Linked DNA regions of Homo sapiens: all the other regions are linked to region 1. The links come from fine-mapping of genetic effects on gene expression. A gene starts in region 1. Each other region holds a variant in brackets. All regions are shown on one strand. Distances are between the middles of the regions.

Evidence for each region. PIP is the estimated chance that this variant, and not a neighbour inherited with it, causes the effect.
Region 2: its variant is the best candidate, but not a certain one, in a credible set for the expression of TRIM3 in nasal epithelium (TOPMed, PIP 0.61).
Region 3: its variant is the best candidate, but not a certain one, in a credible set for the expression of TRIM3 in tibial artery (GTEx, PIP 0.80).

The regions. Positions count from the first base shown.
Region 1 is chr11:6,472,790-6,475,547 of GRCh38, reverse strand. TRIM3 (tripartite motif containing 3) reads left to right here and starts at 1,607. Exons shown (of 12, transcript NM_033278.4): 1 at 1,607-1,757. RefSeq lists a silencer at 1,481-1,710 and enhancers at 1,068-2,006, 2,007-2,758.
Region 2 is chr11:6,501,669-6,504,426 of GRCh38, reverse strand. It overlaps DNHD1 (dynein heavy chain domain 1), which reads right to left. Exons shown (of 43, transcript NM_144666.3): 4 at 1,501-1,674. Among named protein-coding and RNA genes, the nearest start is that of DNHD1, 5.8 kb to the right of the region's middle. The variant C/T (reference allele first, on the strand shown) is at 1,101.
Region 3 is chr11:6,430,876-6,433,633 of GRCh38, reverse strand. It overlaps HPX (hemopexin), which reads left to right. Exons shown (of 10, transcript NM_000613.3): 8 at 1,617-1,747; 9 at 1,831-1,993; 10 at 2,164-2,585. The coding sequence ends at 2,423. Among named protein-coding and RNA genes, the nearest start is that of HPX, 8.7 kb to the left of the region's middle. The variant T/A (reference allele first, on the strand shown) is at 1,420.

The DNA of each region.
Region 1 (2,758 bases):
GGGAGTGGCTAGATGAAGACTGCAGGCTGGTTAAGGACTTTTGCCCTCTGGAGAAGGAGCTGAGAAGTGTTTTAAGCAGAAATTTGACTGCATGGGAGAAGTATAGAGTTGAGAAAAGTAGTCCTCTGAGGCTTAAGATAGTGTCATCTAGACTCCAGTTCCCTCATCTTGGGTAGCATAGTAGCCCCAGCCCAAAACTGCAAGCATGATCCCCGTCTGGGTTTCCTTCACAAGCACTGGAGCATCTTGTGCTATGTGCTGAACTCAGGTGGATAAGAGGTTGAGGCGGTTCCCAAAGCTCCTGCTGCACCCAGGTGTTGAGCCTAAATCTGAACCTTGTGGAGAGGTCACAAGAAAGATCCCTAACAGCACTTTGGTTTAGTCAGGGCTAGGTGTCATCACCTGTATGCCCTTTGGCCAAGGAAACCAGAATTTTTCAGGATTTTCCCCACCTCTGGAAGGCTGGAGGAAGGGGAAGACCCACTCAGCAGATTCCCATAGTGCAGGGATCCTCACAGGCATGACTTTGCCCTTTGTCATGGATACTGCAGCTCCCAGACAGTCTTCTGGGCTTTGATCAGCCTGCAATCATCTGACTAGAGCTTGATTTTTGGGGCAGGGAAGGTGGTCCTTATATGAGCTGCCACTTAATGGGCCACTGGGGATTTTTCAACATGAAAGGTACCGAGTCTCCAAATGCTGGTTGTAGGGCCTAAAAACAGGGCTCAACTCCAGGTTCTGCCACTTTCTAGCTGAGTGATGAGGGCTAACGTCTGGGGAGCAAGATCCCTATTTTTTCCCATTGTAAAATTGGGCTAATAAAAGATGCTACCTACTGACTATTAAATAATATATGTAAAGTGGCTAGTTCTGTGTCGGCACATAATAACCACTCAGTCCCTGTAAACTGTTACAATTATTTTCCACTTGGGGCTGCTTTTTGCACAAGGCGATGATTCTGAGAATTGTCCAGTGTCTTTGGTGTGAGGAAGGGAGTCGCTGGATGGTCTGAACCAGAATTTCCTCAGGAGGGGGCTCCTGAAGCGCCCAAAGCCTAATCAAATCCCCCACCTTTCTACCCCTTAACTCCTTCTCCCAGAGTTCTGGGTACTGCCCTTCTGCCGCCCAGAGATCGTGCTGAGGTACAGACGGTTTCTACGTCTTCCTGGTCAGCCGATAGACTAGCATATTCCATAGGAGCACTCCAAGGAAGCCGGAAAGGGCGCCTCCAGGAGGCAGGCGGCCCAGACAGGCTCCCAGAGTCCGAAATCCCTGCTGCCCCAGCTGCCTTTTCTTGACGGAGTCTCATCTCAATCCCTGAGACCGACTACACCGCCCTTCCCGGAGCCGGAGGCAGCTGGCGGAGATCCGGGATCCGAGATCCGGGATCCGGCTCGCCGGCCCGCCGGCTCCCTAGCAGCACCAAGGAGGCAGCGTCCGCAGGAGGTGGAGGCGTTGGCGGGGGGGCGTGCGGGTGCGGTAGGGGTGGGCAGGCGGGGTGGGCGGGGCCTCCGCGGCGGCGGGCGGGGCGTGGGTGGGTCTTCCCTACTGGAGTCACCCCCTCCCCCGGCCGGTCCGCAGCCCCGCCCCGGCCCCTCCCTCCGGCCTGTGCGGCTAGTCCGGCGGCGGCGCCGGCGCGGGGACAGGCGGAGGCGCGGGCAGGGCCGGGCGGACGGGCGCTGGCAGCAGTAGCAGCGCCGCGGGCCCTTCAGAGTGGCCGCAGTCCGAGCTTTGCCCTCGCATCCTGTTCCAACGCGGTGAGTGCGACGGGCGGGCCCCAAGGGTGCGTTTGTATTCCTGTCAGCCCGGGTCTGGGTCGGAGCGTCTGTGGGTGGGGGCACAGATGATTTTCAAAAGCTGTGCCTCTCTCTGCCCACGTGAGGCGTGTCCATGTCCGTGAGAGCAGCAGGGGGATTCTTCGGGCTGTGGCTGCTCACGTGAGGTCCCTGTTTTGAGGCGGGGAGGCGCGGGTGGATGGGTGATGGTTCCTTAGGGGAGCGCGGGGTTTGGGAGCTTGTGTGTGTTGGCGGAGGGTGCTGAACGCTGCGGCCGAGGGTGGTGGTGGTGGTGCGTGCTGAGTGGGACTCTGGAATATTGTGGCCCATCTTGTCTGAAGGGCTCTTTTCTCCCTGGTGCAGACACCTCCACCCCTTGCTCCCCCACCCCCACCCTACCCCACCCCCCGCCCCTTCCATCCTCTGGTACCCACAGGCCCACCAGTCAGGATGGAGGACACCCTTTCCTCCCCATGCACTGCTCTGTGGACAGAAAGCCTCATGTGGAGGCTGTTTTTTTGTAGGAAAGGACCCCTCTGGTTCTCCTGTAGCCTGAGCCCTGCCTGGAGGACCCCAGGCCCCTCCCTGGTTCTGACCTCCTCCCTTCTGCAATTGGCTTCAGATCCTGGGCTGCAAACCTGCAGGGACAGATGGTTGCAGGTTGGAGGGGCAGGCTGCACCCCAGGGAGGTCAGTTCGACTGAGGGCAGGCCCTGGGCTTGTTCTTGGTGTGGGGGTTCTCTGATGTGGACAACAGAAACTCAGGACTGGCCCTAGCAGGAAGATCACATCTGGGAGGTCACAGCAGGTGCAGAAAACATCACAGGTCTCCCTTGGCCAGTCTGTCTAGCTCACTGGTGCCCATTCATCCCCTAAGCAGGGGATGATTTGCTGCAGAATTGGAATCAGAGCTGCAGGCCTGACAGTAGCCCTGCCTCCTTGGGCTTGTATGCCTCCAGTGACAGAGCACTTGCTACTTTCTGC
Region 2 (2,758 bases), 29 kb before region 1:
CCATTGCTGAGGCAATGATGGCAGAAAGAGCAAGCAAACGAAGCAGCAAGTCCCTTCCCCTCTTATCTTGCTGTCCAGTCTCCCAGCACTCTCCATTAATCAAACCTAATAGAAGGCCAGCTGAAAAAAGAGAAAAAGTTTGCAGAATCTCAGCCCCAGTATCACAAAGCAGAGAGGGAGGAGGAGAATTAGAATCAAGAGGCAATCAATTAATAACCAGCAGGATGCTCTCAGTGAACATTTATTAAATGAATTGATCAGTAAATGAATGAATGATATTGATCATTAGTGCTACCTAAGTTCAAGAGATCAGTGTGCACAGGAAATAAGGTTATTTGGGAGGCTGTATTAGATACTGCTTAAGAGCATGAACTTTTGGATTAAGATAGTCCTAGGTTTAAATCCTAGTTACACCATTTATTATGTAGCTTTGGATAAATTACTTAACCTCTCTTATGTATCAGTCCACTCATCTCATATATAGAAATAATAATAGCACCTACCTGGTAGATGAGGATTAAGTAACACATGTCATGAGTTTATTAGCACAATGCCTAATATATTGAAGAGTTTGGTTAAAGGCAATTATTACAATTATTTCTGGGAGGAGATGGACTTGAATAGGGCTTTTTAAAATAGGCGAGGATTTGAGCCAGGCATGGTGGCTCATGCCTGTAATTCTGGCAATTTGGCAGGCTGAGGCTTGAACCCAGGAGTTTGAGACCAGCCTGGCAACACAGTGAGACCTCATTCTACAAAAAATAAATTTTAGAAAACTGGCCGAGTGTGGTGATTCATGCCTGTAATCCCAGCTACTCAGGAGGCTGAAGTGAGAGGATTGCTTGAGCCAGAGAGATTGAGACTGCAGTGAGCCATGATTGTGCCACTGCACTCCAGCCTGGGTGACAGAGTGAGCCCTTGCTTCAAAATAATAAGAAGAAATTTTTAAAAGTAGGTGTGATTTGGATCTAATGAGAGGAAGTGAATAAATGTCTCTTGAGTCATGGGGAAGGAGGAGACCTGTTTTTATAGCCCCATAGATAAACTAGAGCCAGGAGGTAGAAGTTAAAAGAATGCAGATTTTGATTCAGTCTAAGGAA[C/T]AAGATACCTGGAAAAAAATTTTCCTGACACTGTAAAGATTTAAACAAACACATGTTTCTTCCATTGGAGTTGGAATAGATCACCATAAAATTTACTTCTAAGGCTGTGAACAAATGTTTCTATCATTCTAGGATAGAATAAAAAAGAAAGAGCAAAATGTGAGAAAAGGATGTGTAAGACAAAAGGCTGTGTAAGCAACAGGGAGTGAAGGGGAGGTAGAGAGTGGAAAGGAGGAGGAGGCTGAGGAGAAGGGAAGAGAGAGGGACACTAGAGTCAGAGGAGGAGTATGTGGAGAAAGGACAGGGAGAAGGGTGCGCACGTGGAGAAAGAGGAGGGGGAAGATAGCATAGAAGGAAACCAGGCAGGGGGAGGAGAAGGGGCCTGGACATAGGCTATCACCTAAAGTACCGGCTGGGAGCCACATTGAGATAGAGGAAGTGGATCTTCTTCAGGTATCTCTCCATCTTCAGAGCAGTCATCACCTGGCTATCCAGGAAGGAAGTCTCAGGTGAAAAGCCGGTGCTGCTCTTTTGGAAGGCCTTTTCCCTGGGAACTTCATAGTCAAGCTGAGACCTGTGTGACAGAAAATCAGGAGAGAAAAGGCAGAGTAAAAAGGTCAAGTACCTTAGAGGGAGGCCTTGCCACTGTTGGCTAGTGAAAGGAGGACTAGATCAGGTGCCTGAGGAGACCTGACGTGGCATTGTCGAGCCTGACTACCATCTATACTCAAAGATACCACATACTGGGCAAATATAGCGTATCATAGAACACAGTTAGGCAACAATATTGACACAAACATGTGTGTGAGCAACCTCTCCCTTTCTGATAAACAAATAATCATTCTGGATTGATTGGAATTACCATGAAGTCAGTATTACATAATACTGTGTACAAATAATGGGAAGACTTTATTTTCCCAACTCATTGCTCTGTAAGCCCACAGTACTGGATTTCCCCTCCCAGCTCAACCTTCTTGGCCTTTCAGATTTAATATCCTATCTTTGATTCCATTATACCTGCTTTCCAACCCTGAATGATCTCCATGCCTGTTACATTTTCTGCTCTTCCCCTACCATCACCCAACCTCTAGCTTCATATTCTTTCCTTTCCTGCCAAGATCCAATGGTGGCCCCCTCAAGCCTGCACCAATACACTCATCCTCTTACTCTTCTGCATTCTGGTCAACAAAATTGGTATGGAAATTAGTTACCAATAACTCAAAAGTGAATGACTAATAATTTTTAGTTGGGGAGACCTGAGAGCACACACACAAAAAAAACTCTGGAATGATTTAACTTAGACTTAGCCAGTCAGAATATACCAGTATCATTAACTGACCCAAACTTAGATCAACACAAGTTTCCCCAGGGATAACAGTGCAATCCTATTCTAGAATTCATATCAACAATATGGTTTATAACCTTTATACATATGTCCTTGATGAACTGTTGTGTTGGATCAGGACATCTTAAATGGTATAATTGCTCTTATAGGTTCATTTTCTCAGCAAAGTCCTATATTATATAGTATATTCAGAAGATCGCAAAACCAAGGACATTTGCTCCTCTACGGGTTCCTGGTGTCCAATCAGCTGTGGGCTCATTCTGCCTGATGTCTTCACACAAGTCCTCAGACAGCTACCTCTTTCAGGCCTCTC
Region 3 (2,758 bases), 42 kb after region 1:
CAAGCATGTAAGCAAGGAATCCAGCTAGCAATCCGTGCAGTTGTCCAAATTAGAGGTGATGACCGCTTGGACTAGGATGATAGCAGCAGAGGTGGTGAGGAATCACCATGATATATTTTGGAGGTAGAGCTGACAGCATTAACTAATAGCTAAGATAGGCCGGGTGTGGTGGCTTACGCCTGTAATCCTAGCACTTTGGGAGGCCAAGGCGAGTGGATCACCTGAGGTCAGGAGTTCGAGACCAGCTTGACCAACATGGTGAAACCTCGTCTCTACTAAAAATACAAAATTAGCTGGGAATGGTGGCACATGCCTGTAATCTCAGCCTACTTGGGAGGCTGAGGCAGGAGAATCGCTTGAACCTGGGAGGTGAATGTTGCAGTGAGCCGAGATTGCACCATTGCACTCCAGCCTGGGGAACAAGAGTGAAACTCCGTCTCTAAATAAATGAATGAATGAATGATATCAGTCAGAGTAGGGAAGGGAAAAGAGGCTTCAAGAATGACTCAGCTTTCGTGGACTCAGCAACTGAGTGGCTGGTGGTTTTGTTTTCTAAAATTGGGAAAGACTAGGGAGTGTGTGTGTTGGTGGGGGGCAGAAATCAGTTTGGGCATATTAGGTTTTGGGTGCCTATTGGCACCCCATAAGCATGTCAGGTAGGCAGCTGATTTGGAGCCTAAACCTCAAAGGAGAGGTCAGTCAGAGCTGACGAGAACAGATTGGAAGTCATCAGCATATAGATGGCATTTAAAGCCCCTGGACTAGGTGAGATTACCAAGGAAGTGAAGGTAGAGAGAGAAGAGAAGAGGCCCAAAGTAGGGGATTCCAATATTTAGATATCAGGTTGAAGAAAAGAGTAGTCAAAAAAGATAAGAGGAATACTGGGAGAGTCAGGTGTCACAGAAGCCAAGTTCCAAAAAAAGACATTTAAAGGAGAAGGAAGTAGTGAGCAGTCCAGTGCTCCTGAGAGGTAGGGTCAGATGAGAACAGAGAATTGACCATGAGATTTCGCAAATTGGAGAATACTAGCAACCTGGATAAGAACAATTTCAATGGTTGAGGGAAACAGAAGTGTAATTGAAGAGGATTGAGGAAAAAAGACAAATGGGAGCCTAGATAATTCCTTAATAAGTTGTTGTGAAAAGAGGAGAAGAAAAACGGGGTGCTAGCCCAGCTACTCCCTCACTCTTCCACCACCTCATAGGGAGAGACTGGAGAACACAGCCAGAGTGAGAACATTCAGTAGAAGTGGTGCTTCCTTTTTAAGTTCTGGACACTGTATTTCATTATCTATAACCGCATCTCTGTACATGGACACCTGAAATCCTTAGGGAGTGCCCGCCAACCCCATGATGTTGGCCTTACCTGGAAACTTAGCCACTGTTTTCCACACTTGCCTTTCTTTCAGGCACCTGCTGA[T/A]TCCAGTTTCAGCCAGGGCACAGTGCCCAACATTGCTGACCAAGTCTTGCTCTATTTCTCCTTCTCACCTGGCCTCTTCCATCTTGGCCTCTGGATGCATTCTCTCCCTCTCATGACTCATTTCTGCATTCATCACTAGCCTCTTCTCTGCCTGGGCTTCTGCCAGCGGCCCTAGAGCAACCTATGGTATTCCACAGGGACCCACTACTGGCGTCTGGACACCAGCCGGGATGGCTGGCATAGCTGGCCCATTGCTCATCAGTGGCCCCAGGGTCCTTCAGCAGTGGATGCTGCCTTTTCCTGGGAAGAAAAACTCTATCTGGTCCAGGTGTGTATTGGGGGAGAGGCTTGAGGTAGAGACTGGGACAAGCATATCCAACTCTGTATTTATTACCATCCTTTGTCCTCCAGGGCACCCAGGTATATGTCTTCCTGACAAAGGGAGGCTATACCCTAGTAAGCGGTTATCCGAAGCGGCTGGAGAAGGAAGTCGGGACCCCTCATGGGATTATCCTGGACTCTGTGGATGCGGCCTTTATCTGCCCTGGGTCTTCTCGGCTCCATATCATGGCAGGTGAGGGGCTTCTGGGTGCTTAGAGGGCAGCTTGTTCTGCTACCTGTCTGTGGCATAGATCCCCACCAGGGCATGAGAAGGCCTAGGTCAGGATCCCCAGGGCATGAGAAGGCCTAGGTCAGGATCCCCATGACATGGAAGCCATGCTATGTTTGGTGCCTTCTCCCCAGGACGGCGGCTGTGGTGGCTGGACCTGAAGTCAGGAGCCCAAGCCACGTGGACAGAGCTTCCTTGGCCCCATGAGAAGGTAGACGGAGCCTTGTGTATGGAAAAGTCCCTTGGCCCTAACTCATGTTCCGCCAATGGTCCCGGCTTGTACCTCATCCATGGTCCCAATTTGTACTGCTACAGTGATGTGGAGAAACTGAATGCAGCCAAGGCCCTTCCGCAACCCCAGAATGTGACCAGTCTCCTGGGCTGCACTCACTGAGGGGCCTTCTGACATGAGTCTGGCCTGGCCCCACCTCCTAGTTCCTCATAATAAAGACAGATTGCTTCTTCGCTTCTCACTGAGGGGCCTTCTGACATGAGTCTGGCCTGGCCCCACCTCCCCAGTTTCTCATAATAAAGACAGATTGCTTCTTCACTTGAATCAAGGGACCTTGGTCGTGAAACAATCTTCTTTCTTTGAGTTGAAAAGTTAGCACTTCTCCTTTGAGGGTGTCGAGCTCAAACAAGGCTGTGAGAAACAAGGGAGGGGAGCACTAAGGGGCAAACCTATCTCTGCGCAGATGATTCTTAGGTCCAGATCATAAACTAGCTCTT